Homo sapiens: one gene and its partners. The protein of the gene in region 1 interacts with the protein of each later gene in a pairwise test. Each region holds a gene or a part of one and is shown on either strand. Other genes may lie near its edges. The genes, in order: GRAMD1C, CD151 and CD72.

Evidence for each region.
Region 2: the proteins of GRAMD1C (region 1) and CD151 interact in binary tests that used the Homo sapiens proteins (3 or more experiments, as listed by UniProt).
Region 3: the proteins of GRAMD1C (region 1) and CD72 interact in binary tests that used the Homo sapiens proteins (3 or more experiments, as listed by UniProt).

Annotation. Positions count from the first base shown.
Region 1 is NC_000003.12:113,831,489-113,843,626, forward strand, and holds the start of GRAMD1C (protein Aster-C), read left to right. Parts: upstream 1-7,299; 5' UTR 7,300-7,421; coding exon 7,422-7,448; intron 7,449-12,138. UniProt on the Homo sapiens protein: Cholesterol transporter that mediates non-vesicular transport of cholesterol from the plasma membrane (PM) to the endoplasmic reticulum (ER).
Region 2 is NC_000011.10:835,952-839,489, forward strand, and holds the end of CD151 (CD151 antigen), read left to right. Parts: intron 1-111; 5' UTR 112-118; coding exon 119-202; intron 203-299; coding exon 300-491; intron 492-817; coding exon 818-892; intron 893-1,298; coding exon 1,299-1,403; intron 1,404-1,508; coding exon 1,509-1,667; intron 1,668-1,990; coding exon 1,991-2,077; intron 2,078-2,181; coding exon 2,182-2,241; 3' UTR 2,242-2,880; downstream 2,881-3,538. UniProt on the Homo sapiens protein: Structural component of specialized membrane microdomains known as tetraspanin-enriched microdomains (TERMs), which act as platforms for receptor clustering and signaling.
Region 3 is NC_000009.12:35,613,407-35,625,611, reverse strand, and holds the start of CD72 (B-cell differentiation antigen CD72), read left to right. Parts: upstream 1-7,198; 5' UTR 7,199-7,308; coding exon 7,309-7,390; intron 7,391-7,490; coding exon 7,491-7,598; intron 7,599-8,364; coding exon 8,365-8,436; intron 8,437-8,922; coding exon 8,923-9,012; intron 9,013-9,225; coding exon of another isoform or gene 9,226-9,266; exon of another isoform or gene 9,267-9,333; coding exon 9,334-9,669; intron 9,670-12,205. UniProt on the Homo sapiens protein: Co-receptor of B cell receptor (BCR) that plays both positive and negative roles on B-cell functions. Recognizes the Sm/ribonucleoprotein (RNP) self-antigen ligand, and coligation of CD72 and BCR inhibits BCR signaling.

The DNA of each region.
Region 1 (12,138 bases):
ATTCTTTCTTGGCCATTACTTCTTCAAATATTCTTTCTTTCTTCTCTCCTGGAATTCCCATTTTGTATATGTTGGTCTACTTGGCAGTGTCTTACAGGTCTTATGGGTTCTGTTCATTTTTCTTCACTTTTTTTTCTTTCTGCTCCTCAGACTGAATAATCCCAATTGACCCACCTTCAAGTTGCTGATTTGTTCCTCTGTCTGCTCAAGTCTATTTGAATTACTCTAGTGAATTTCTCATTTCAGTTATTGTATTTTTCAGCTCCAGAGTTTCTATGTGGTTCCTTTTGTAATTTATATCTCTTTATTGATATTCTTCATTAGGTGAGACATTGTTCTCATGGGTCTCTTTTGAATTTGATTTCTTTTAGCTCTTTGAGCATATATGAAATAGTTGATTTAAAGTTTTGTTTGCCTAATGCTCAGGCTTCATTAGGGGCTGTTTCTATTATTTTTCTCTGTATATGGGTCAAACTGTCTTGTTTCTTTGTGTACCTTATAATTTTTTGTTGAAAACTGGACATTTTGAATATTATAATGCAGCAACTTTGTTTTTTTTGAGACAGAGTCTTACTCTGTCGCTCAGGCTGGAGTGCAGTGTGCAGTGGTGTGATCTCGATTCATTGCAGCCTCCATTTCCCCAGTTCAAGAGAGTCTCGTGCCTCAGCCTCACGAACTACAGGCACCCACCACCAGGCCTGGCTAATTTTTGTGTTTTTAGTAGAGATAGGGTTTCACCATGTTGGCCCGGTTGGTCTTGAACTCCTGACCTCAGGTGATCCACCTGCCTCAGCCTCCCAAAGTGCTGGGATTACAGGCATGAGCCACTGTGCCTGGCATAATGCAGCAACTTTGAAAATCAGGTTGTACACCTCCCCAGGTTTTACTGTTGCTGCTTATTTTAGCATTTATTTGTGGTTTGTTAGTATCTTTTATAAACTACTTTTTTATGTTATGGTAAAATATACACAAGATAAAATTAACCATTTTATCCATTTCAAGTATGGTTCAGTGACATTACGTGCATTTATATTGTGTAATGATCACATCTCCAGAACTTTTTCTTCACCCCAAACTGAAACTTTGAACCAGTTAAATAAAGCCCCATTCTGCCCTCTTCATAGCCCCTGGAAACCACCATTCTACTTCCTTTCTCTATGAATTTGACTACTCTAGGTACCTCATACAAGTCAAACTAATTTTGTAAAGTTTGTATTCTTTGTTTTATGTGGCCACATAAGTCTCTGTTCTGTCAGATTAGAAAAAAATAAAAACCGAGGAAGAAAAATACATACAGAAACAAGCAATTATCTTCCAGTCTTTGCAGACTGGCTTTCTGTGTGTGCTGGGTATGCCTGTAACACCCAGCCAGGCAGTTTATATCTCTGCCTTAGCCGAGCAAAAAGTCAGCCAGAGGTGGAAGTTTAGGGCCTTCTTAGGTCTTTTCTGAGCATGTTCCCAGCTTTGGGCATGGATGTGGCCTTCTGGATTCCCAGGAATTTGTGAGAGTTTTTCAAAGCCCTTATTCAGATTGTCCATTGTTTGCCTGAACTGTTATCCCTTGCCCCAAGTGATACTGGTAATATATTTGCCTTCAAATTTTTTCTTTTCTTTTCTTTCTTTCTTTCTTTCTTTTTTTTTTTTTTTGTGTGTGTGCGTGTGTGTGTGTGACGAGTTTTGCTCTTGTTTCCCAGGCTGGAGTGCAATAGTGCTGTCTTGGCTCACTGCAACCTCTGCCTCCTGGGTTCAAGCAATTCTCCTGCCTCAGCCTCCCAAGTAGCTGGGATTACAGGCTTGTACCACCACGCCCAGCTAATTTTTGTATTTTTAGTAGAGATGGGGTTTCTCCATGTTGGTCAGGCTGGTCTCGAACTCCCAACCTCAGGTGATCTGCCCCCTCAGCCTTCCAAAGTGCTGAGATTACAGGCGTGAGCCACCATGCCCGGCCCAAATGTTTTCAATAAATACTCTACCTGCCCCCTCTACCAACATTCCCCCACCAACACCTGCCCAAGGCAGGTGTCCTACCCTTGGAAGAGTTCTGAGATAAAATAAGGCAAACAAGTCCTTGAGCCTTCAGGGAGCCACCAAACAGGTCAAAGCAAACAGATAACAATTCTTCGAGAATAAGGTCTGTACTGCTACCTCTGATACTACGAATCAGTACCAGGAATGTGGGCTATTGTAGAGTAGGGGATGGTACCAGGGTAAGTTAAAATAAAATGTCACAAAAGTCTTTTACTGAGACTCAGCTGTTTTTTCTTAATTAAGCATTCCCCTGATTGTGGTAAGGTTTTGGTGACATTCCAGATTTCCAAATAAATTGTTTCTGACAGCTCTTGCCACCTTTTTTGTTGCTTTTGTGGAAGTACAGACTTTTGAAGTTCCCCACTCTGCCATTTTCGTTGATGTTGCTCCTCCTCATTCTTTTAAAAATTATTATGAAACTGCACAGAATTCCAAATTCTAATGGATGGAGGTTTGTCATTTATTTAACCAGTCCTTTATTGATGATGATTTGTTTTCAATTTTTACTACCAACTATTCTTCTAGGAATAACTTTGGATTATTTTGCATGTGTGCAATTAAATCTATAGGAAAAATTGCAGAAGTTGGTACTGCTGAAGAGTATATGCATTTTGTAATTTTTGAAGCTATTGCCAAATTCGCTATATTACTTTACACCTCCATTATTATTATTATTATTTTGAGACAGAGTCTCACCCTGTCACCCAGGCTGGAGTGTAGTGGTGCAATCTTGGCTCACTGCAACTTCCGCCTCCTGGGTTCAAGCGATTTTCCTGCCTCAGCCTCCCAAGTAGCTGGGATTACAGGCGCCTGCCACCACGCCTGGCTAATTTTTGCATTTTAGTAGAGACAGGGTTTCACCATGATGGTCAGGCTGGTCTCGAACTCCTGACCTCAAAGGATCCACCTGCCTTGGTCTCCTGAAGTGCTGGGATTACAGGCATGAGCCACCGCACCCAGCCTCTACACTTCCATTATAAGAGTCCTGTATCCCCACGGTCTTGTCAGCAGAATGCGTTTTCAAATTTCTGTACTTTTTGTCAAACTAGTAAGTGAAAAATAGTATTTCAGTGTGGTTTTAATTTCTATGCTATTCTGAGTGAAACTGAGGATCTTTTATATTTTTAAGAGACATTTGCCCAGGCACGGTGGCTTACACCTGTAATCCCAGCACTTTGGAAGCCCAAGGAGGGTGGATCATGAGGTCAGGAGTTCGAGACGAGCCTGATCAGCATGGTGAAACTCTGTCTCTACTAAAAAAAAAAAAAAAAAAATTAGCTGGGCGTGGTGGTGGGCACCTGTTATCCCAGCTACTCCAGAGGCTGGGACAGGAGAATCGCTTGAACACAGGAGGTGGAGTTTGCAGTGAACTGAGGTCGTGCCATTGCACTCTAGCCTGGTGACAAAAGTGAAACTCCGTCTCAAAAAAAAAAAAAAAAAGACACTGATATTTCCTTTTCCATGAACTTTCTGACATATACTTTAACAATTTTAACTTGACTATGGTTTTTCCATATGTTTTTCTGGGAGCTGTTTACATATTAGTGTGATCTCACTTTAAATACATGACCATTAATCTCCTAATTAAGCATTCCCCTGATTGTGGTAAGCAGGGATTTCTGGGAGCTGTTTACATATTAGTGTGATCTCACTTTAAATACATGACCATTAATCTCAATGAGGCATTTGTGTTGCCCAGCAATGCTACTGTTTTACTGTTTTCCTAAAACATTAGTCAGTTCATTCACCTGTGCTCCTAAGTATTTCATAATTTCTCCTTTCTCTTCAAACTTCTAACAACTTTTCTTCCATATTCACTTTCACCTTATGTTCTATTTCACTGCAAAATATATCAATGCTCTTCAGCCAAAGTCCAGGAGAACCATAGCTGTAGTTAGACAACATTGTGTTTATTGACTCATTGCAATGAGGGTGAAAAAATACCATGGAGAACCATGAGGACATCTCAGTGAAAGGGTGTTAGAAAGGTCTTACTACAGGATTTGGGTTTGTGTTCAGTGATTTTGCGAGGAGGATTCAAGAAGTGGAGCTTTGTCCCAGATTACATATTGTCAATAAGATGTGGTTATTCTGATTGGGTATCTTAATACATCTTATCTAGAAGGTAGGTGGAATAAAGTGAAGCTAAAGCTGTTATTGGGAAAAAGGCAGCAGTCAGTCATATTAGTCAGCATAGGGACATAGTCATTTCTGTGTTTCGAACGATGTTCACATTTTTGTCTGTGTTTAGACATGATTACCCAGTGGCCTTCTTTTTGTCTTACTCTATCATGATCATACAGTGGCCTTGCTTAATATTAGTGTTCTGTGACGTTTTTTATGTTTAACAGAACACAGTTTATGCAAAGTTTTGCAGAATGAGGATGGAAACCTGTCTTTTACTGATTATCTTATTAAGTAATTTGTCCTTTAGTATGTCATATATATTTAAGAAATATGCTCATGGCCAGGTGCAGTGGCTCACGCCTGTAATCTCAGCACTTTGGGAGGTTGTGGCGGGTGGATCACTTGAGGCCAGGAATTTGAGACCAGCCTGGCCAACATGGTGAAAGCCCATCTCTACTAAAAATACAAAAATTAGCCGGGCATGGTGGTGGGCGCCTGTAGTCCCAGCTACTCAGGAGGCTGAGGCAGGAGAATTGCTTAAACCTGGGAGGCAGAGGTTACAGTGAGTCAAGATTGTGCCACTGCACTCCAGTCTGGGGGACAGAACGAGACTCTGTCTCAAAAAAACAAAAACAAAACAAAACAAAAAAGAAATACACTCAGTGTCTGACATTTTGTGGAACTGGATTCAACTCCTTTCCATCTCTTCAACTTTACATTATGATTTTTAAATATATGTAAACAGTAAAAGAATAACTGAATAGTAGTATACCCTCCACTTAGGTCCAATAATTAACGTTTCGCTATTTTGTTTTCTCTGTGTATTCATCTTCGTGGAAGCATTTGGAAGCAAGTTGCAGACATGGTGCTACTTCACTCCTAAATACTTTTTTTTTTTTACATCCCCATGGATAACAGGGAACTCCTAAATATTTTAGTGTGAGTTTTCTAATATTAAAGACACCCTGCAACATAGCCACAAGTTATTATTATTATTATTATTTATTATTATTATTTGAGACGGAGTTTCACTCTTCTTGCCCAGGCTGGAGTGCAATGGCCTGATCTCGGCTCCCTGCAGCCTCCACTTTCCAGGTTCAAGCGATTCTCCTGCCTCAGCCTCCCAAGTAGCTGAGATTACAGGTGCTCACCATCACGCCCGACTAATTTTTGTATTTTTAGTAGAGACAGGGTTTCACCATGTTGGCCAGGTTGGTCTCAAACTCCTGACCTCAGGTGATCCTCCCACCTCAGCCTCCCAAAGTGCTGGGATTACAGGCTTGAGCCACCACGCCCAGCTGCCAAAAATTATTAATTATCCATAAATGAATATCCATAAATGTATACATAAATCATTAATTATCCTGTAACATCAACTCTAATAGCCATTTCATATTCACTATTCCTCAATTGTTCTAGAATGTCTTCCCTCCCTCCCTTCCTTCCTTCTTTCCTTCCTTCCTTCCTTCCCTCTCTCTCTCTTTCTTTCTCTCTCTCTGTCTCTCTTTTCTGGAGATGGGGCCCCCCTGTTTTGCCCAGGCTGGTCTTGAACTCCTGGACACAAGCAACCCTCCCACCTTAGTCTCCCAAAGTGCTGGAATTACATGAGTTAGCCACTGTGCCTGGCTTAGAATGTCTTTTTTATAGCTGTTTGGTTGGGAACTCTGAACCCCAAATATCTGAGACAGGCCTCAGTTAATTTAGAAAATTTATTTTGTGAAGGTTAAGGACACACCTGTGACACAGTCTCAGGAAGTCCCAATGACATGTGTCCAAGGTGGTTGGGGTACAGCTTGCTTTTATATATTTTGGGCAGACCTAATACATCAATCAATACATGTAAGATTTACATTGTTTCAATCTGGAAGGGGAGACAGCTCCAAGGCGAGAAGGAGGAACTTTCAGGTCATTGGTACATAAAAAAATTTTCTGATTTGCAATTGGTTGAAAGCGTTATTATTGACTGGGAGCTGTGGCTTGCACGTGTAATCCCAGCACTTTGGGAGGCCGAAGGGGGCAGACTGCTTGAGTCCAGGAGTTCGAGACCAGTCTGGGCAACATGGCGAAACCCTGTCTCAAAAAACAAACAAACAAACAAACAAACAAACAAACAAAGTAGTTAAGCATGGTGGCACACGCCAGTAGTCCCAGCTACTCGAGAGGCTGAGGTGGGAGGATTGGTTGAGTCCGGGAGGTGGAGGTTGCAGTGAGCAGAGATTGCGCCACCGCACTCCAGCTGGTCTAATAGAGCCAGAACCTGTCTCAAAAGAAAAAGAGAAAAAAGAGTTATTATCAGTAGAAAGGAATGTCTGGGTTAGGATAAGGGGTTGTGGATACCAAGGTTTTATCATGCAGATGCAGCCTCCAAGTAGCAGGTGTCCGAGGCAATAGATGATAAATATTTCTTCTCAGACTTAAGGTCTGTGTTGATGTTAATGAGGCATGTCCAATCCCCTCTTTCATCATGGCCTGAACTAGATTTTCAGGTTAAATTTGGAACGCTCTTGGCCAAGAGGAGGGGTCCATTTAGATGGCTGGGGGTGGGCCTCGGCATTTTATTTTTGGTTTACAGAACCAAGAATCTGCAATACGTACAGCAGTTAATCAGTAACTTCAATCCTTTATTGGAAGGAACAAGAGTTTCCTGGCCGGGGGCGGTGGCTGACGCCTGTAATCCCAGCACTTTGGGAGGCCAAGGCCAGCGGATTGCCTGAGGTGGGGAGTTCGAGACCAGCCTGACCCACATGGTGAAACCTTGTCTCTACTAAAAATACAAAAATTATCCGGGCGTGGTGGCAGGCGCCTGTAACCACAGCTACTCGGGAGGCTGAGGCAGGAGAATCGCTTGAACTGGGAGGCGGAGGTTGCAGTTAGCCGAGACGGGGCCTTGGCACTCCATCCAGCCTGAGGAATGAGAGCGAAACTCCGTCTCAAAAAAAAAAAAAAAAAGTTTCCGAGCAATTCACCTTTTCGCACATTGGGGCAGGGTATGCCATTTCCTGGGAGGCACAGTAGTTTGAGGTTGGGAATAGGGAAGTCTCATTGTGACCCCTAGAAAGACAAGCCTTCAGGCTAACCCGGTAACACCCATCGTCAGGAATCCTTCACGGCCGCCAGAGGGCGCAAGGAGCTGCGGCTGGAAGTACTCGGAGGGCCGGCGGAGGAGGCGCGCGGAGCCTGTAACTCGCAGCGCGCGCTGGAGGTGGGCGCGGGGCGGTGCGGTGCGGTGCGCGCGGGGCGGTGCCGCGGCGGCGGAGGGAGCCGCGATGGAGGGCGCTCCGACTGTCCGTCAGGTAAGCCGCGGGCCTCGCTGGGGCAGGTTCCCATCTGTGGCTTTAGCCTACTTTTTCTCACGGTGATTGCTTGAACCTTCTCAGATTACAGTTAATCCCTCCCTTCCCTTTTCTTCGTGCTCTTTGGAGTAATACGGAAAGTTGTTACCGAGGAAACGGTTTCCTGTGCCTCTGCGAGCCCTTTCCCTACGGGCGGTGGTGGGGACATTTGCTTCCCTGTGGGCGTTGAGGGCTTGAATTTGGTCCCGAAATGTCCTGGTGCGGATGTCTCAGCCCCAGGCCCCCTTGGGTCAGGCCCCATGGTCGTGATTCTGACCCACTGTCAACGTTTTTTCCAGCCTTGCCCCCTTCCTTTCATTCTCAGCCCTGTTGTAAAGGTCCGGATAGTTTAAATCACTGTGCTGTCAGCCAAGTTTTTGATTTCAACTAGTCTAGTTTTATTTGTTTACTACCTTATTTGACAAAACGGAAAGCGTGCTTATTAATATTCAGGATGAAACCCCGCTTTTGTTGGACGGGCGCCTGCGTTTCTGAACACCATCCTCCTTCTACATTGGTTTGTGTGTATGTATTTTACTTTTAGAGAACTGCGGTCAGTGCTATATCTTCTGAAGAGCGTTATAGTTTACAGATTAGTGGAGGTACACAAATAATTGTTGAATGAACAGATGAATGAGTGTTATTTCACTTGATTTGAAAAACATTACTATGAAATAGTCAAGCTGGATATTCATGAACCCAATCAGTCACTGATTCAGTTATGTCCCTGGCACTGGGTGTTCGGGATTAGATGGTGATTAACACAGACATGATCCCTGCTCTCAATAAGCTTATTGTCTAGACTAGAGATAAAATTATTTCCTCTATTGTAGAGTTAAGGAACAGATGTACAGAGATTGACTTTGCTAAGGACCACACAGCTAATAAGTCAGAGAGACAGGAATCTACTGTAGCCACCCCAGAAAGCCAGAATGGACCCCCATCCCAAATTTGATTCAGGTGTAGAAACTGATGATGCCACACACACACCATGAGGTTGGAGTAGAAACTGATGATGCCACACACACACCCTGAGGTTGGAGTGCAGTGGCGCAATCTCGGCTCACTGCAAGCTCTGCCTCCCGGGTTCACGCCATTCTTCTGCCTCAGACTCCCCAGTAGCTGGAACTACAGGCGCCCGCCACCACGCCCGGCTAATTTTTTGTGTTTTTAGTAGAGACGGGGTTTCACCGTGTTAGCCAGGATGGTCTTGAACTCCTGACCTCATGATCCGCCCGCCTCGGCCTCCCAAAGTACTGGGATAACAGGCTTGAGCCACCACCGCGCCCGGCCCTGAAAAAGTCTTTTACTTACATAATTAAGGTCTCCAGGGAGAGCAAGGCAGGCCTCTCAAGCAGCACTAAAATGGCTTAAGAGAGCCTCAGGAAAAAACTGGCTCCAGGTCTTTTTTTCACCCTTGATGTTTGATGACTGACCTGCACCATTTGAATTTGAATTTGAATTTAAGTCAGCCATTGTGGCCCAGTGCAGTGGCTCATGCCTGTAATTCTAGCACTTTGGGAGGCCAAGGCAGAAAGAAGTATCGCTTGAGGACAGGAATTTGAGACCAGCCTGGGCAACAAAGCAAGACCCTGTATCTACCAAAATAAAAAAAAAAAAGAAAGAAAAATTAACTGGGCATGGTTGTGTGGCGCCTGTGGTCCTAGCTATTTGGGAGGCTGAGATAGGAAGATCACTTGAGCACAGGAGGTTGAGACTGCAGTGACCCCTGTTTGTGCCATTGCACTCCAGCCTGGGTGACAGAGACCAAATTATTTTCAGAAATTTAACCAAGGTGGTAGGCCTTACACTATGTGTGGCACAATAGCCCATCCTCCTTTTGTGAGCTCCTTTGTGAGTATGTCAAAAGACTGTCCTCAGGGGAGGATGTCATCAATGGAATGTTATACTTGTGCTCCTGGAGAAAATTTGATGCAGTTAAGATCTTTCCTGTAAAGGCTGTGTATGATGGCAAGACTGCGTACTCTATGGTTAGCCTGGTAAAGAGATGTTATGTCTCTCTGGAGGTGAAGACCAACTATGGCTGAGGAGGTGTTGAAAGAGACACTGAACAGAACATATTAGCCAAATCTATCACAGCAAAATATTTACTAGTTGTGGACTGGATAGTCAGTAATTTCAACAATGTTGAGTATAGGGGCCTTCCTGGGTAAAATGACATCATCGAGGATGCAGTAATGAACCATGAGGTACCATTCATTCTTACCAAATTTAACAGGCCAAATTGGGCTGTTAAATGGAGAAGCAGTAGGGATAATTACTTTCACAAAGTACTTCTTTCTTTCTTTCTTTTTTTTTTTTTTTTGCGAGACAGAGTCTTGCTCTGTCGCCCAGGCTGGAGTGCAGTGGCACAATCTCAGCTCACCGCAACCTCCACCTCCCGGGTTCAAGCAATTCTCCTGCCTCAGCCTCCCAAGTAGCTGGGATTACAGGCACGTACCACCACGCCCAGCTAATTTTTGTATTTTGTTTTAGTTGAGATGGGGTTTTACCATGTTGGTCAGGCTGGTCTTGAACTCCTGACCTCGTGATCCACCTGGCTTTCCCTCCCAAAGTGCTGAGATTACAGCATGGCGTGAGCCACCGTGCCTGGCTGAAGTAGGTCTTACATAACAAGTTTTAGTCCTTGAAGGCCCTGTTTTGTTTTATATTGGGTTGTATAATTTTAACTGGGCATTGAGAGTGGTGGTCCATAGGGTCTCACTGTTTTGTTTATTTTGAGACAGAGTCTTGCTCTGTCACCTGGGCTGAAGCACAATGGTGCAATCACAACTTACTGTGATCTCCAACTCTTGGACTCTGGCAGTCCTCCCACCTCAGCCTCCCAAGTAGCTAGGACTACATGTGTGTACCACTATGCCAGGCTAATCTTTAAATTTTTGTAGAGAGGGGGCCTTGCTGTATTGCCCAGCTTGTTCTCCATACTCTTGGCCTGAAGTGATCCTCCTGCCTCAGTCTCCCAAAATGTTGGGATTATACGTGTGAGCCAACATACCCAGCCTGTTGTCCCACTTCTTTGAAAGCCAATTTGTAAGCTCTAAAGACTTGATTTAAATTTAGTTTATTACTAATTGTGTCAGAGTGTCCATGGCCACAATAGGATATTTCAGGGCAATGTATACCACCATCGTGGAGTATTTAGGCAAAGGTATAGTTCTGATGGTTAAAGTGAGGCATACCTATTTGTTGTCTATTTTATGTTGAATAACTCCTAAGATTGTAGGGGATACCTTGTTTAAATTTAGTGGGAACTCTAGGTATAACTGTAATTTGAGACCCAATATTGATTAAAGCCATGAAGATTTGCCAATTGCCGCATTTTAGCTGATGTTGAAGTTAACTTAGAACCTATGTTGTAGAGGCACAAAAGCCAGTCTTTTATCTTTTATCCTGTAAATTATTTTAAATTCTGTATGTTTTGTTAGATCAGTTTATGGACTTCAGTTTCAGTTTTTTTTGTTTGTTTTTGTTTTGCTGTTGTATGTTTCCTCCCCTTCTATCCAGGTTTGTTGGTTTCTCCCTCTCTTTTTGGAGGTTACTGGATATACTTCAGGTGGAGGAGGTCTTCTCTACCCTCTCATGTTTACAAATTTCTTTCTCTAGAGAGCCTCAAATCAGTATCATTGTGATTAGAGGCTTCCCCCATGGCAATGGTTATTTATAGGGTTTAAGAACCTCAAGTTTGGCCAGGTGCAGTGGCTCACGCCTGTAATCCTAGCACTTTGGGAGGCTTAGGTGGGCTGATCACGTGAGGTCAGGAGTTTGTGACCAGCCTGGCCAACATGGTGAAACTCCATCTCTACTAAAAATACAAAAATTAGCCGGGTGAGGTGGTGCACGCTTGTAATCCCAGCTACTCGGGAGACTGAGGCAGGAAAATCGCTTGAACCCGGGAGGTAGAGGTTGCAGTGAGCCGAGATCACGCCACTGCACTCGAGCCTAGGCGACAGAGTGAGACTCTGTTTCAAAAAAAAAACAAAACAAAAAGAACCTCAAGCTTAAGTGGAGCAGCAGCAGCAGAGATATTTAAGGATCCTGGTCCACCATAAGCTGTTTTTTTTTTTTTTTTTTTTTTTTTTGTTCTTGTTGTTTGTTTGAGACAGGGTTTTGCTTTGCCGGCCAGCCTGGAGTGCTGTAGCTTGATCATGGCTTACTACAGTCTTGACCTCCCAGGCTCAGGCAATCCTCCCACCTCAGCCTCCTGAACAACTGGGACAATAGGCGCATGCCACCATGCCAGGCAAATTTTTTGATATTTTTTGTAGAGACGGGGTCTCACTATGTTGCCCAGGCTGGTCTCAAACTCCTGGGCTCAAGAGGTCCTCCTGCCTCAGCCTCCCAAAGTGCTGGGATTATAGGCATGAGTCACTGTGCCTGGCCCATATGCTTTTATAATGGCTACTCCTCCTTACTCCCCTATTCCATATTTGCTTTTTTCTTTTTTTAACTGCCTGATGAGTGATCTTACTTGAGCAATTACCCGATGGGCCCATATTTTTTTGAGACAGAGTCTGGCTCTGTCACCCAGGCTGGCATGCAGTGGTGTGATCTCGGCTCACTGCAACCTCCTCCTCCTGGGTTCAAGCAATTCTTCTGCCTCAGCTTCCGAGTAGCTGGGACTACAGGCCAC
Region 2 (3,538 bases), on another chromosome or scaffold:
GCTGGGATTACAGGCGTGAGCCACCGCGCCTGGCCCTGTGTCCCCTCCTATCCGTCTCCCAGTCAGGGGCCCGGTGCTGTGGCCCCGCTGACCCCTCCCCTGCCTCCTCAGCCCCAGGATGGGTGAGTTCAACGAGAAGAAGACAACATGTGGCACCGTTTGCCTCAAGTACCTGCTGTTTACCTACAATTGCTGCTTCTGGGTGAGGAGGGGTCGCCTTGCCCCCACCCCCACCCCCACCCCTCCCGGGCCACCATCAGACCTGGGCAGATGCGATGACCTTTGTGTACTGCTTGTAGCTGGCTGGCCTGGCTGTCATGGCAGTGGGCATCTGGACGCTGGCCCTCAAGAGTGACTACATCAGCCTGCTGGCCTCAGGCACCTACCTGGCCACAGCCTACATCCTGGTGGTGGCGGGCACTGTCGTCATGGTGACTGGGGTCTTGGGCTGCTGCGCCACCTTCAAGGAGCGTCGGAACCTGCTGCGCCTGGTCAGGAGGGCGCAGGGCCACGGGGTGGGGGTGGTGCAGATGGGCCCAAGGAGGTTGTCGCTGCAGGCTTTGAACCTGTGCCTTGCTGTGCTCACCTGGGGGGGGGGTCACGGTCCTTCCACACCTGCCTAGTCCTGTGGGTCCCCACGTTCCTGCTGGACCAGCTGAGGGAAGACACCAGCTCCGCAAGAAAGCTTCAGGGAGGGTGGCCGCCCCTCAGCCCCCACCTGGAGCCTGGGGAGCCGGGGTGGGGACTCTGCTCTGAGGTGCACTAGGTCTAGGCACTAGGCCTCAGAACAAGGGTGCCCTTGTGCTGCCCCCCCCAGTACTTCATCCTGCTCCTCATCATCTTTCTGCTGGAGATCATCGCTGGTATCCTCGCCTACGCCTACTACCAGCAGGTGAGGGGCCTGGGCAGGCCATTCAGAGACACAGACATGCACAGGCGGGGCGGACACACACACATGCACACGCGTGGCTAGCCCCAACCCCCACCCCCATGGTCCCAGAGCTAACCAATGTGCCACTGGGCCCTGGAGATGGGGTCTAGGTCTCTGCAGGGGCACATGGGGTCAGGCAGGTGTCCAGGGGATCCAGAAGCTCTCTCTGCCTCTGCCGCACTTCATTGTCACCCTGGTGACGGTCCTGGCACCACCCAACCTCCCCTCATGCCGAGGTGTGACCTCAGCCCTTCCCTGTGGCTCTGAGCTGGGCCCCGGGCCTCCCCACCGGCCATCCTGGGGCTCTGCCAGCCCCACCTTGGAAGGTCTTAGACTGAGGCTGAAGTTTCCTGCACCCCAACCCCAGCTGAACACGGAGCTCAAGGAGAACCTGAAGGACACCATGACCAAGCGCTACCACCAGCCGGGCCATGAGGCTGTGACCAGCGCTGTGGACCAGCTGCAGCAGGAGGTGGGTGGGTGGTGCTGGGAGGGCGCGTGCATCCCCAGGGCCTCCCTGGACCTCTGCAGGAGCCTCTGGCCCCAGGTCTCAACCCCAGCCTTGTTCTTGATGCAGTTCCACTGCTGTGGCAGCAACAACTCACAGGACTGGCGAGACAGTGAGTGGATCCGCTCACAGGAGGCCGGTGGCCGTGTGGTCCCAGACAGCTGCTGCAAGACGGTGGTGGCTCTTTGTGGGCAGCGAGACCATGCCTCCAACATCTACAAGGTGGAGGTGGGTGTGCAGCGGGATCATGCCTCCAGTGTCTACGAGGTGGTGGGGGGGCACCCCAGTGACTGGCTGTGGGCAGTGGGACACGCCTCCAATATCTACCAGGAGGTGGGGGGTCACCCCAGTGGCCGGATGTGGGCAGTGAGACCACACCTCCAATATCTACGAGGAAGTGGGTGGGCAGCCCAGTGGCTGGCTGAGCTGTTGGTGGCCTGGCTGCCTAGGTGCTAGGGGTGGGTTTGGCCACACCCTGGAGGCTGGAGGCAGTAGGGGCCAGTGGGAGGTGCCCCCTGGGCCCGCCTTCAACACCCATCCGCGCCCCGCAGGGCGGCTGCATCACCAAGTTGGAGACCTTCATCCAGGAGCACCTGAGGGTCATTGGGGCTGTGGGGATCGGCATTGCCTGTGTGCAGGTGAGGGCACATGGGGGTGGCGGTCATCTTGTTGGGGACACGGGGCAGGGCGGTGGCTGGTGGCCCCATGACGTCTGCTTACGCCCACCCGGCTCTGCACACAGGTCTTTGGCATGATCTTCACGTGCTGCCTGTACAGGAGTCTCAAGCTGGAGCACTACTGACCCTGCCTTGGGCCTTGCTGCTGCTGCACCCAACTACTGAGCTGAGACCACTGAGTACCAGGGGCTGGGCTCCCTGATGACACCCACCCTGTGCCATCACCATAACCTCTGGGGACCCCAACCTCAGAGGCAGCTTCAAGTGCCTTTTGCTGCGCACCAATGCCCAGCAGGGGAGGTGAGGGGGGCTGGCGGGGCGAAGTTTGGGGGGTGTTTTGTGGGGCTCCCCAGACACACTCTCTGCCTGGTGGTCAGATGCAGGTTGGAAGGGGCCTTGCTGAGTGGCGCAAGGCCGAGCGTTCCCAGCAGGGGGAGAAACCCTTCACACCCCAGGCCCTTCAGGAACTGGGGCCTTGCCTTGCAGCCACATGGCCCCATCCCAGTTGGGGAAGCCAGGTGAGCTCTGACCCTTGGGCCTGGGCCTCTGCCCCTCCCAACCCAGCCCTCGTCTCCCTCGACAGCGCCCCTGCTGTCTTCCCCACCGCAGTCACCACCACCCGAAATGCCACGTGGTCACTGTGCACTGCCCTGTTCATGTGCCTCTGCGGGGCAGGGCCTTCCTGGTTTTGTTCACTGCTGTACCCAGATGCCTACAACCATCCCTGCCACATACAGGTGCTCAATAAACACTTGTAGAGCAGATGGACGAGCTCGCTGTGCTGGTAACAGATGGTGGTCTGTTCTCAGGGCCCTCGCATCCAGCAGGGCAGACAGACCCACCCCCGCCCCGCCCAGTGTCAGGACAAAGAAGGGCAGAGCCAGGAGGACACACCCCCCATGGGGCTCCAGGGAAGGGAGGTCTGATGCCAGGGACAGCTGAGCACAGGCCTCAGCAGAAAGAACTGAACATGTTCCTAAATGGTGAGATGGTGTGTTCAGAGCCCCTGGGGGAGAGGAAAAATGGTTTCCAAAACCCTTCTGGCCATGGTGGGGAGCAGACGTGGGAAGGGTGCAGACTGGGGGCCGTGCCCAGGTAAGAGGTGTCAGGCAGGTGGGGTGGGGGCAGTAGGGTGAGGGGGTTTACATGGAGGAGCCTATAGGCCCTGCTGGGGGCCAGAGGGTAGGAGGTACCAGAGCCTGGTGTCTGGCAGAGGTACCCTGGAGATGGGAGCCAGGGCTCGGTCACTGATTGTGCCCCCCACTGCCCAGGTTCCTGTCCTTAAGGCTCAGAACTGTAGACCCTCAGGCAGACCCGTTCTCCCCTACCAGAGGACACCACGCCAGATATCTGGGCAGCAGGGACATCTGACCTGGGGTGCTTGCTGGCAGCACTGCCTGGACAGCAGGGCCTCCTTAGGGC
Region 3 (12,205 bases), on another chromosome or scaffold:
CCAATAAAAGGCTGTTTAGTTTGCATTGAAAATCTGTTGTTTAGTGTAGCCACCTTCATCAATGATCTTAGTTAGATCTTCTGGATAACTTGCTGCAGCTTCTACATCAGCACTTGCTGCTTCACCTTGCACTTTTATGTTATAGAGCTGGCTTCTTTCCTTAAACCTCAGGAACCAACCTCTGCTGGCTTCAGATTTTTCTTCTGCAGCCTCCTCAATTCTCTCAGCCTCCAGAGAATTGAAGAGAGTTAGGGTCTTGCTCTGGATTAGGCTTTGGCTTAAGAGAATGTTGTAGCTGGTTTGATCTTCTATCCAGACCACTCAAACGCTCTCCATATCAGCAATAAGACTGTTTTGCTTTCTTATCATTTCTGTGTTCACTGGAGTAGCTCTTTTAATTTCCTTCAAGAACTTTTCCTTTGCATTTGCAACTTGGCTAACTGGCATAAGAGGCCTAGCTTTTGGCCTATCTTGGCTTTGGACATGCCTTCCTCACTAACCTTAATCCTTTCTGGCTTTTGATGTAAAGTGAGAGATGTGCAACTCTTCCTTTCACTTGTACACTTAGAGACCATTGTAGGGTTATTAACTGTCCTAATTTTAAGATTGTTGTGTCTCAGGGAATAGAGAGACCCAAGGAGAGGGAGCAAGACAGGGAATAGCCAGTCAGTGGAGCAGTCAGAACACACACAACTTTTATTAAGTTCAATGTCTTATAGGTATGGTTCATGGTGCTCCAAAACAATGACAATATTAACATCAAAAATCACTGATCACAGATCTCCATAACAGATACAATAATAATGAAAAAAGTTTGAAATATTTTAAGAATTACCAAAATGTGATGACACAGAGACACGAAGTGAGCACGTGCTGTTGGAAAATGGCACCAGTAGACTTGCTTGCCACAGGGTTGCCATAAACCTTCAACCTGTAAAAAACTCAGTATCTGTGAAGCGTAATAAGTGAAGTGCAATAAAATGAGGTGTGCCTGGACATTCCTACAGTATGTAGCAGCAGCCCTAACCCCTCATGATAATCAGGCAATCAGGTTCAGTCACCTCTGCCAGGGTAATCGCTCCCCACTAAGTATGTGAGCTAGGAGTAGCCAGGCACGATCGCTAGGTATGGAGAATTCTGTGGGTCAAGGTAGATGCTCTCTATACATCCTTTCATCTTTAACTCCCACTGCCAACTCAGTGGTCATCTCCATATTTTCCCACTTAAATTCCTGAAAATTGGCATTTGATAAACTCATCCTGATGTCCAGGTCGCTGGCTTGTCCATGGACTGGCCAGCCTTAGGCAGAGGCCCACTTGCTCATTTTATATTTTTATTAAATTAAATTTATTATTATTATTATTATTATTATTATTATTATTATTATTATTATTATTTTTGAGACAGAGTCTCCCTTTGTCGCCCAGGCTGGAGTGCAGTGGTGTGATCTTGGCTCACTGCAACCTCCGCCTCCCAGGTTCAAGTGATTCTCCTGCCTCAGCCTCCCGAGTAGCTGGGATTACAGGCATGTGCCACCACGCCCAGCTAATTTTTGTATTTTTAGTAGAGATGGGGTTTCATCGTGTTGGTCAGGCTGGTCGTGATCCACCGACTTCAGCCTCCCAAAGTGCTGGGATTACAGGCGTGAGCCACTGGGCCTGGCCTTTATAAATTTGTCTTTTTAACCCATTTTTTTCTGAGACGGAGTCTTGCTCTGTCACCCAGGCTGGAGTGCAGTGGTGGAATCTCGGCTCACTGCAAGCTCCGCCTCCTGGGTTCAAGCTATTCTCTTGCCTCAGCCTCCTGAGTAGCTGGGATTACGCATGTACCACTATGCCCAGCTAATTTTGTATTTTTAGTAGAGACGGGGTTTCGCCATGTTGGCCAGGCTGGTCTTGAACTCCTGACCTCAGGTGATCCGCCTGCCTCGGCCTCCCAAAGAGCTGGGATTATAGGTGTGAGCCACTGCGCCAGGCCTCGCTTGCTAATTTTAATCAGCTGAGGTCAAAGGGGTTGGAGGTCACAAGACACAATTTCTGGGGACTAGGGCTGCCTCATCAGCAGGGGTTTGCCTGCTTAAAAAGGGCTATAGGTAGTATTTAAGTATGGGATAAAAAACACAAAGTAAAAAACAAAACAAAAAAAAAGGGCTATAGGTGTGGCTGGCACAATGTTAGATGTATTTGGTAAGGGGGCTACAGTTCTATGTGGCAGCCTTTTGTCACAAGCTTCTTTCCAGTCACTGGGTCAGTTTATAAGGCGCTTACAGCCTGCTGAGTCCAGTTTCCCAATTTGTAAAATAAGCAGGCTGGGCTCTCTAAGATCCCTTCAAGTGTAAAATAATAACTGCCTTTCTCCTCAAACTTTGTTACATAAACAATTGTTAACCCAGGACTCCCTCCATCCTATGCTTATGCAATTTATTTTTTGAATTCCAAATTTCATTTTTCAATAAATGCTTGCTGTATTATCTTTTTTTTATTTTAATTTTGATTCATTTATTTTTTGAGGGAGGGTTTCACTGCTGCCCAGGCCAGAGTGCAGTGGCACAAACATGGCTGACAGCAGCCTCGCCCTCCTGGGCTCAAACAATCCTCCCCACTCAGCCTCCCAAGAAGCTGAGACCATAAGCATGTGCCATCACACCTGCCTAATTTTTAAATTTTTTGTAGAGATGGAGTCTCGCTGTGTTGGCCAGTCTGGTCTCGAATTCCTAGGCCCAAGTGATCCTCCCACCTCAGCTTCCCAAAGTCTTGGGATTATAGGCATGAGCCATTGTGCCTGACTTTGCTGTTATTATTATTATTATTATTATTATTTTTTTTGAGACAGAGTCTCGCTCTGTCACCCAGGCTGGAGTGCAGTGGCACCACCTTGGCTCACTGCAACCTCTGCCTCCCGGGTTTAAGCGATTCTTTTGCTTCAGCCTCCTGGGTAGCTGGGACTACAGGTGTGCGCCGCCATGCCCGGCTAATTTTTGTATTATTAGTAGAGACGGGGTTTCACCATATTGGCCAGGCTGGTCTCGAAATTCTGACCTTGTGATCTGTGCACCTTGGCTTCCCAAGGGATAACAGGCGTGAGCCATCGTGCCTGGCCTGCTGTTATTATTTTTATGACATTTCATTCTGTGGTTTGGAGCCATCATTTTGCCTTGTTGCAAGGCTTGAATCTTGAGTTGGCCTTTTGATGTATTTGCTTTTCAGCTCTGTGCCATTAAGCACAGAGAACGTGCTTTCTGTGTCACCATTTGAGGCAGGACCAAGGAGAGGCCTGGGGCAAGTCACCGAAGACCTATCTGTACTCTTTGGCTTCAGTGATCAAAGAAATCCAAGTCTCCCTCATGGTGCAATCAGGTGGCCCATTTTTCTCCCTCCTGACTCTGAAGCCTTTGTGACAGATTTTAAAGAGGCGTTTGTAAAGTCCACACCTAGTGTGTCTCCAGCAATCATACTCTTGATTGAGGTCAGACTATCTTGTATTTTACAGATGGAAAACTGTCACTTGCCCAAAGTCACATACTGTGGCAAGGCTGGTCTCTTTAACCAGAGTCTCCCTATTCTTTCTATTACATCATGCTTCCTCCACAGTTCACGAAACTCTTGCTGCTCTAATAAATTACACACTTGGTGGCTTAAACAATACAAATTTATTGTCTTACAGTTGTGGAGATCAGGTCGACACAGGTCTCACTGGGCTAAAGTCAAGGTGTCTGCAGGGCTGGTTCCTTTCTGGATGCTGAAGGGGAAAATCTGCTTCCTTGCCTTTTCCAGCTCTCAGAGGCTTCTTGCATTCCTTGGCTCAAGGTCCTCTTCCTGCACCTTCAAAATCAGGACCTATGGGTTGAGTGTTTCTCCTGTGGCGTCTCTCTGGCCCTCCTTCCCTCACCGAATCTCTTTCTTCCCATGATGGGAAAGGTTCTCCCTTTCAAGGACTCATGTGATCAGAGTGTGCCTACCAAGATAAAACAGGATAATCTCTCTATCTAAAGGACCTTGATTAACATAGCCACATCTACATTTTGTCAGGTAAAGTGACATAGTCACAGGTTCTGGGGATTCGGGTGTGAACATTTTTGGGAGGCCATTATTCTGGCTACCACACCCTGTCAGTAAACTAGGGCTTCCCGGAGGCCAGTGGGTTAAAGTAATGAAGACAGATATAGCCTGACTTTCAGAGTCTTAGGAGATGCTCCCGATGTCCTGACATAGACTGTATCAATGACACAAAGTTGATCAGGTGAGCCCCCTTCCACATGGCAAATTCTATCTGATGCCCTCATGGTTGGGCCCCCTCCTCTTGTCAACCGTAAACACCCATTCCCTGTAATGAGTAGTGGGGAGGCCAGGAGAGGGCAAAACATGGGTGTTAGTGTCTGCCCTCCAGGCTCTCAGATGATGATAGTATGGTTCTGGAAAAGCTGAAATGTACAGCACTGACCCCTCACCTCTTAAAAGTTCCCTGATATTTGGGCAGTAGAGGTACAGCTTGGAGTTACAGGTATCTTTTCTGATGTCCAGCCTCTAAATGTAATGTGAATGTCAAAACTGTAAAGACCCCAAGTGACACACGTGGGGAAGGGGAAGGATCCTACTCTCTTACCCTGTTCACAAAGGAAGGCTACAAGCTGGTCTAAGACAGAAGCGAATGCGGCCTGTGATGAAAAGATATGTAACCATCACCAAAAGAGCTAAAGAGGAGAAAAATATAGAACAAGCCTGGTTAAGACATTCAAGATATTGCGGTGTGCAGTTCCATCTGGGGATCCCCTTCTTTTTTTTATTTTTTTTTATTTTTGGAGACAGAGTCTCACTCTGTGGCCCAGGATGGGCACAATCTCGGCTCACTGCAACCTCTGCCTCCCGGGTTCAAGCAATTCTCAGCCTCCCTAGTAGCTGGAATTACAGGCACATGCCACCATTCTCAGCTAATTTTGTATTTTTAATACAGATGGGATTTCACCATGTTTGCCAGGCTAGTCTCAAATTCCTGACCTCAGGTGATCCGCCCACCTCAGCCTCCCAAAGTGCTGGGATTACAGGTGTGAGCCACCATGCCGGCCAGGAGATCCCCTTCTTAAGCCTCTCTACAGGTCAAGTTAGGCAGCAAGCCCATGTATTCCATTTTTTTTTTTTTTTTTGGAGATGGAGCTTTGCTCTTGTTGCCTAGGCTGGAGTGCAATGGTGTGATCTTGGCTCACTGCAACCTCCACCTCCTGGGTTCAAGCGATTCTCCTGCCTCAGCCTCCTGAGTAGCTGGGACTACAGGTTCGAGCCACCACACCAGGCTAATTTTTTTGTATTTTGTAGTAGAGACGGGGTTTCACTATGTTGGCCACAGACACCTTTTTGAGTGCAGACTAGAAGCTTGGTTTTGGCATTTTACCTGGCATCTACATCATGTTCACCTGTGTATTGGATCTGAAAACTGGGACATTCTACAGTTTGTGGAACTCCTGCAAATGTTCCTGCAATTGATTTACTCACACACTGCCCACACCCACCCCCTGTACACCACAGGTTCAAGTATTTGACTCTTCCCACCCCACCCACCCCTGCCACCAGCTGCTCTATACCCTCCCACTCACTCTCAGGGCCCCTGAGGTCCCCAGGGAGTCACCACCACATACCACTCTCTGTATCTGGGGGAAGGTCTAGGTTGTTGGAAACTTTAATCAAGCAAGGACAGTTAACAGCTGCAGAGGCACCTTAGGAAACAGTGAGCTTCAAAAAGGAAATACTTGTAGGATCTCTTGTGATGACCTTTGACGACTTTTCTGAAAATGACCCGTCATTCTCTGCCATGGAAAATAACAGTGATCACAGGCAGCCTTCAGCCCACAGAAGGCTTCCTCCTCCAGGCAGGCTCTGACATAGCCGCTCACCTCACAGATGCCCTAACAGACTGCAAAGTCCTGGGAACATGCATATCCATGCACACACATGCACACGTGCCTCTCTACAAGTACATTTTTGAGGTCACAGCTTTGCCTCAGTGGCCACTTCCTCTAGGGCTGGCTGGGCGGAGCTATTGGCAGAGCTCTAGGGTCCCTGGCAGTGTCCTGCCACACACCACCAATCATCCGAGCTGTTGGCATGTGGTGAGGACCTTTTCCCCCTTCCTTTTTCCTCCCCACAGCTGCAGGAGGGGGATTCTGCGGGGCGGATGTCACTTTGCTAGGGGCGGGTTCTTCCCACCCCCACACTACATCTTGTTCTAGCTCCTTCCTATCCCGGATGTAGGCCATTTTGGGGTTCCTAGTAGGGGTCACATCCCGGTAAAAGAACATTAGGGAGCACCTTTGGGCACCCCTGCTCAGCAGCCCCCTTTCCCCCAACTGGTTCCCTCTCTCCTCCATCAGCCAGGCCCCCACCACCTATGAGGGCCTCGCGGTCCCTGGGTCCTCCGCCACAAATGCCCCCTTTTTCCTTGGGGCTGGGTGGGAAGGGACAGCTTTGGGACTTTTTAAAGAAAGAACTTTGCTAGGAAAGTAAGAGACGAACCAAAACCAAACCAAGAAAATGTCAAGACCTCCGCTGGTCCGGAATCTGCGCTCGGCCTCTGGCTCTGTTCTGCTCCTCTGCCTTGACTTCACCTAGGAAGCTGCAGCCTTCTTAAGCCCTCTGCAACTCCCTTGCTCACCTGCTCCCTGGCTCCCCATGAGGGTGCATGGGGGGCAGTGCTGCCACTTGCCTTTCCAGAGGTGCTGCAGCCATGGCTCTTCCTTACCTTCACCTCTGGCCCAGGCCTGTTCCTGAACCCCCAGTTACTGGAACCCCCAGGATGATGAGAAGCGAGGGATGCAAACCAGGAACCCCCAGTCTCATGGGGAGAACGGAGCCTCACCCTGGAGCTGGGGAGATCGTCTGGGTCAGTGCAGCTCCAGCTACACATCATAAGCCCCAGTGGACAAGGCAGCCAGGAGGAGGGTGGGGCAGATCAGGGCAGATAACCAGAAGGACCGAGTTTGGGGCCCAGCATGGCCCATATGGGTTTAAGATGCATGGAGAGGAAGCACAGGGAGGACATGGGGACAGGCCCATCCCCTACCCCTGTGTTCTGGACCTCAGCGTCCCCTCCGTGGCCCCTCTGGCCCTGGCCCAGGGATGCCTTCTGCTTCATTGAGCCCATCTGTTTGAGACTTGCTAACACCTTCCTCTTTTGTGACTGGAAGTCACAGGGCCAATTGCTAAGCCGTGCAGTCACAGAGGGAACACAGAGCCTAGTTGTAAACGGACAGAGACGAGAGGGGCAAGGGAGGACAGTGGATGACAGGGAAGACGAGTGGGGGCAGAGCTGCTCAGGACCATGGCTGAGGCCATCACCTATGCAGATCTGAGGTTTGTGAAGGCTCCCCTGAAGAAGAGCATCTCCAGCCGGTTAGGACAGGGTAAGGGGGATGAGGCCTCCCCTTGATCCTGCATCCCCACTTCCCGCCCCACAGATCCCATTCCCAAATCCCACCTTGGTCCCTTTTCTCTTCTCTCTAGACCCAGGGGCTGATGATGATGGGGAAATCACCTACGAGAATGTTCAAGTGCCCGCAGTCCTAGGGGTGCCCTCAAGCTTGGCTTCTTCTGTACTAGGGGACAAAGCAGGTCTGGAGAGCCTGGGGGATGTGTGTTTGTTGGGGGGCTGTGTCTTGAGCTGGGGAGTCCACAATGTTTTTGTTGTTGTTCTTGAGACAGGGTCTTGTTCTGTCACTCAGGCTGGAGTGCAGTGGTGTGATCATGGCTCACTGCAGCCTCGACCTCCTGGGCTCAAGTGATCCTCCTGCCCTGGCCTCCCAAAGTGTTGGGATTGCAGGCGTGCGCCCCCATGCCATGGCCCTCAGTATTCTTGAGAGCACAATACCCTGGGGAAAGGAGGAGGGCGGTTCTTAGGAAACAGAAGAATAGGAACAGGATAAATGGGAGCCAGGGGAGGAAGAAAGATTCCTCCCGCAAGGTGGAGACCCCTTTCGGGGAGATAAGGGCTGCGGAGGGATAGGGCAGCCCTGTGGGGGATGAGTTCTAATGGGAAACGGGGAGCCATGGGAGGGAAAAGAGGTGATGGGAGATGGATGAGAGCAAAGGGGGAGAGGGTTTGGAGCCGACAGATAAGGGGCCTCTGAGGAAACGATAAAGGGAGAACTAGGAGAGATGAGGGGGTCCCGGGAAAAGATACAGTGAGACCCAGGAGGAAGCCGAGAGAGTCCCGGGCAGAGGAGGAACTCAGGAGAGTGACACTGTGTCCCAGAGCAGCTCTAGCAGGCAACGTAGGGCAGACTGGAGTTTCCCAGTGGCGAGGGCGAAGCGGGTGCGCAGGAGGAGAAGGGGCAACACTCGGGGCTTCCGGTCTCACACTGGATGCTCCCCTCGACAGCGGTCAAGTCGGAGCAGCCAACTGCGTCCTGGAGAGCCGTGACGTCACCAGCTGTCGGGCGGATTCTCCCCTGTGAGTGTGCCTGTGCGGGGCAGCCGCGGGGCCAAGTGCTCGCGCCTGTCCCGGCTGCGGATGGCGCTGGGCCCCGCGGGGTGCAGCTCCTTCCGGGATAAACCCGGGCGCAGTCCTTCCGACGCCCGGGCTGCCGTGCCACATTCACCTTCATCCGGTGCGCCTGAATCCGACGTGCACCGCCCCCCTGCGGATGGTCCCAATTCACCTACCTGCCCCCCTTCCCCTCTCTCCGTCTGATATTTCCTTCCCCTTCTCCCAGGTAACGCCCCCGAGTCCCCACCAGCACTGATTCTGGAACACCCTCTCCCCTACCTGCGAAACACCCCGCTACCCGACAGAAACCACCATGCTTGCCCCCTCAGCTCTGCACCGCCCTCCTCTTAGGGATGCCTTCCCCAGGGGTCTCCCCCACGGACCTGTCCCTTCCTCTCTACATTCTTTACGGGGGCTGACTGCCCTCATCCATCCCACTGTCCCCCTAAGGCCGCACAACCTGCCTGCGATACCTCCTGCTCGGCCTGCTCCTCACCTGCCTGCTGTTAGGAGTGACCGCCATCTGCCTGGGAGTGCGCTGTGAGTAAGGCTGTCCCTACTTCCCACTTACACCGAACGACTTTCGTCCCGACTCTCGCCCCAAAGCTGATCTTCCTCAGCAGGGATCATAGTCACTACCACCACCTCCTTAGCTTTGGGTTTGGTTTCCAGCCAGGGCTGTTGTCTTCCTGAATTGTCCTCACCTAATCCAGTACCTCCTTACGCTTTAGTCAGTCAAATCTTGTATTTCAGCCTGTGATGCAAAAAGTTGCAAGAAGCAGAAAAAGGGCTGATGCTGCAGTCTCAGGGCACTAGGGCAGGGCTGGAGAAGACATCCACCAAATCTCTGTGGCCAAACAGATCTGCAGGTGTCTCAGCAGCTCCAGCAGACGAACAGGGTTCTGGAAGTCACTAACAGCAGCCTGAGGCAGCAGCTCCGCCTCAAGATAACGCAGCTGGGACAGAGTGCAGAGGATCTGCAGGGGTCCAGGAGAGAGCTGGCGCAGAGTCAGGAAGCACTACAGGTGGAACAGAGGGCTCATCAGGCGGCCGAAGGGCAGCTACAGGCCTGCCAGGCAGACAGACAGAAGACGAAGGAGACCTTGCAAAGTGAGGAGCAACAGAGGAGGGCCTTGGAGCAGAAGCTGAGCAACATGGAGAACAGACTGAAGCCCTTCTTCACATGCGGCTCAGCAGGTATCCGCTCTGGGGAGAGGAGAGAAGGGAGGGATGGATTGGAGCAAGGAGATAGTAGTGGCAGGAGTCTATCACCCAGGGGCCTGTGAGGTGTTCAGGAAAGGGGCAGTGAACCAGAGTGGTGGCTGACATGAGCTGTTCAGCCTTGGCCAACAGAGAGAAGGACCAAGCTGCATACTAGATTTAGGGGGACCCACCCAGCTCCAAGGCTCATCCTGTAGGGGAGAGGAGGATGGCAGCCAGCAGTCCAAATCACACTGTCCAAGGTTTCTTCCGGTTGATATCAGTGACAAGGATCTGGGAACGCCCCCAAATTTGGATGTGAACTTGGCGGTTTGCACATCTTTCTAAAGACAGGGACCTCATTTTTAATTAATTTTCGTTATAGCTGAGATCTCCCCAAAGGGTAAGACTTACTGGCTGACATGGAGTGCAACCTGGTGGTGGGGCAAGGCAGTGAGGCGCTCAGCACTCACAGTGAGGTGGAGCTGGGAGTTGTGGTGTAGGGAACTAGGATGGGGTGTCCATTCATTTTGAAAGCAGGACCCCAGCCAGTAAGTGGAGATGGGGAAAGGGACACATAAAAGAGGCAAGGCTGTATCAAAACAGGCTGAGGGTCTAGGCAAGGTGCCACGCCTAAGGGGACTGGGGTGTTTTTGGGCTATGATCAGGTTTAGGCTCTGTCTAGCTTGGGGGTCATCTGGGTGATCTCCCCAGGCATAAGACAGCAAGATTATGTGCAGACACCCCTTGCCCTCATTTCCTTAACCTTACCCTCTGTGACCATCAGTTCCATGCCAGGGCTGCTCTTAGCAGCATGTTAGACCTCTACCTCCCAAATTGCTCTTCCGGCGAAAGGATGGTTTCAGACTTCCACTCTGATCACAGCTGCCCACCACTCCTGCAGGTTTTCCCCACACTTTTTTGATCTCATCAAGGCCTCCAATCTGCTGACTCCCCTTTTTCTCCCTTCCCATCAGTCCAGGCCTCCAATCAACTGATTCCCCTTTTTCTCTCTTCCCATCAGCTTCTCCTGTCCACACTTCTCTCCCTACCTAACATGGGTTTGGAGCCCATCACTTCAACTACTCACTTATTTTTTTAAATAGAGACAAGGTCTCACTATGTTTCCCTGGCCGGTATCGAACTCCTGGACTCAAGCGATCCTCCTGCCTCAGCCTCCCAAAGTGCTGAGATTACAGTCGTGAGCCACCGCACCTGGCTCACTCACTTCTTTGTTCCATTATCCTTCTAGTGTACCTGATGGGCAAAATTTGAACTCTGGATGAACCCAACTGCCCATGGTCAGCATCAAGGTGTGACAAATTGTGGAATCATTCTGCTCAGTGCCACTGAGACTCTAGTCTCTCAGCACTGCCTGGCAACCTTTGCAATGGTCAGCTTGCTCTCCATAGTAACTCCTTCTCCCTCACTTTCAGCAGATGTCCTCATCTTCCACTCTTTCAGAGAGGAATTCCCTTCACTTTCCATCACCAAGTCTATATATCCATATGGATTTTTGCCCATCCTCATCTTTTGCAAGGATATCTGCAACAGCTTTCTAAATGTTTTTCCTACTCACTCCTCTCCCTGCAGTCCATTCTTCATATTGGAGCCAGGGTAATCTTTTACAAACAAAAATCTGATCGTGTCACCCAATCTACAGCATTCCAGTTAATTGATTACATAAACAGTTATGGAATACATAACATATAATATGTTCTAGCACTGTGCCCAGGCACTTGGGATATAGCTAGTGAACAAAATTCCTCTATGTAAAACCCTACACTGACTTTCTCTTCCTCATAATATAAAAATAAAAATCCTTAACATGGCTTCCATCACTCCTGCCTACCTTTCAGTGTGCCACTTATCTCCTCACCCTCTTCCATTTGGCCATACAGATTTCTTTTTTTTTTTTTTTGAGGCGGAGTCTCGCTCTGTGAGACTGAAGTGCACTCCCAGGCTGGAGTGCAGTGGTGTGATCTGGGCTCACTGCAACCTCTGCCTCCTGGATTCAAGCTATCCTTTTGCCTCAGCCTCCCGAGTAACTGGGATTATAGGCATGCGCCATGGTGCCTGGGTATTTTTTGGTATTTTTAGTAGAGGTGGGGTTTCACCATGTTGACCAGGCTGGTCTTAAACTCCTGACTTCAGGTGATCCACCCCGCCTCGGCCTCCCAAAGTGCTGGGATTACAGAAGTGAGCCATTGTGCCCAGCAGGGATTTCTTTTTATTCCTTTAAGTTGCCATAGGACAGTAGCTCAAGGGAGTAGCAGGGTGGGGACATGAGCATATGTAGAGAGAAGAGAGGGAGCTAGTGGAGAGGGAATGATTTTTGAGTGATGAAGGTAGGACTGATGGAACAAAGCAATGGAGAGAGGTGGCCTGGGATCAGAAGTGCACATTGGGATGTAGGATGTTGAAGAAAGAGGGATATTTATTTCTTATGGATAGTCAGGAAAAGAAGAACAGAGAAGAGAAATTTTGAGGTGGAGAGGAGGGAAAAGGAGAGAGCTCAGTTTCTGCAAAACAG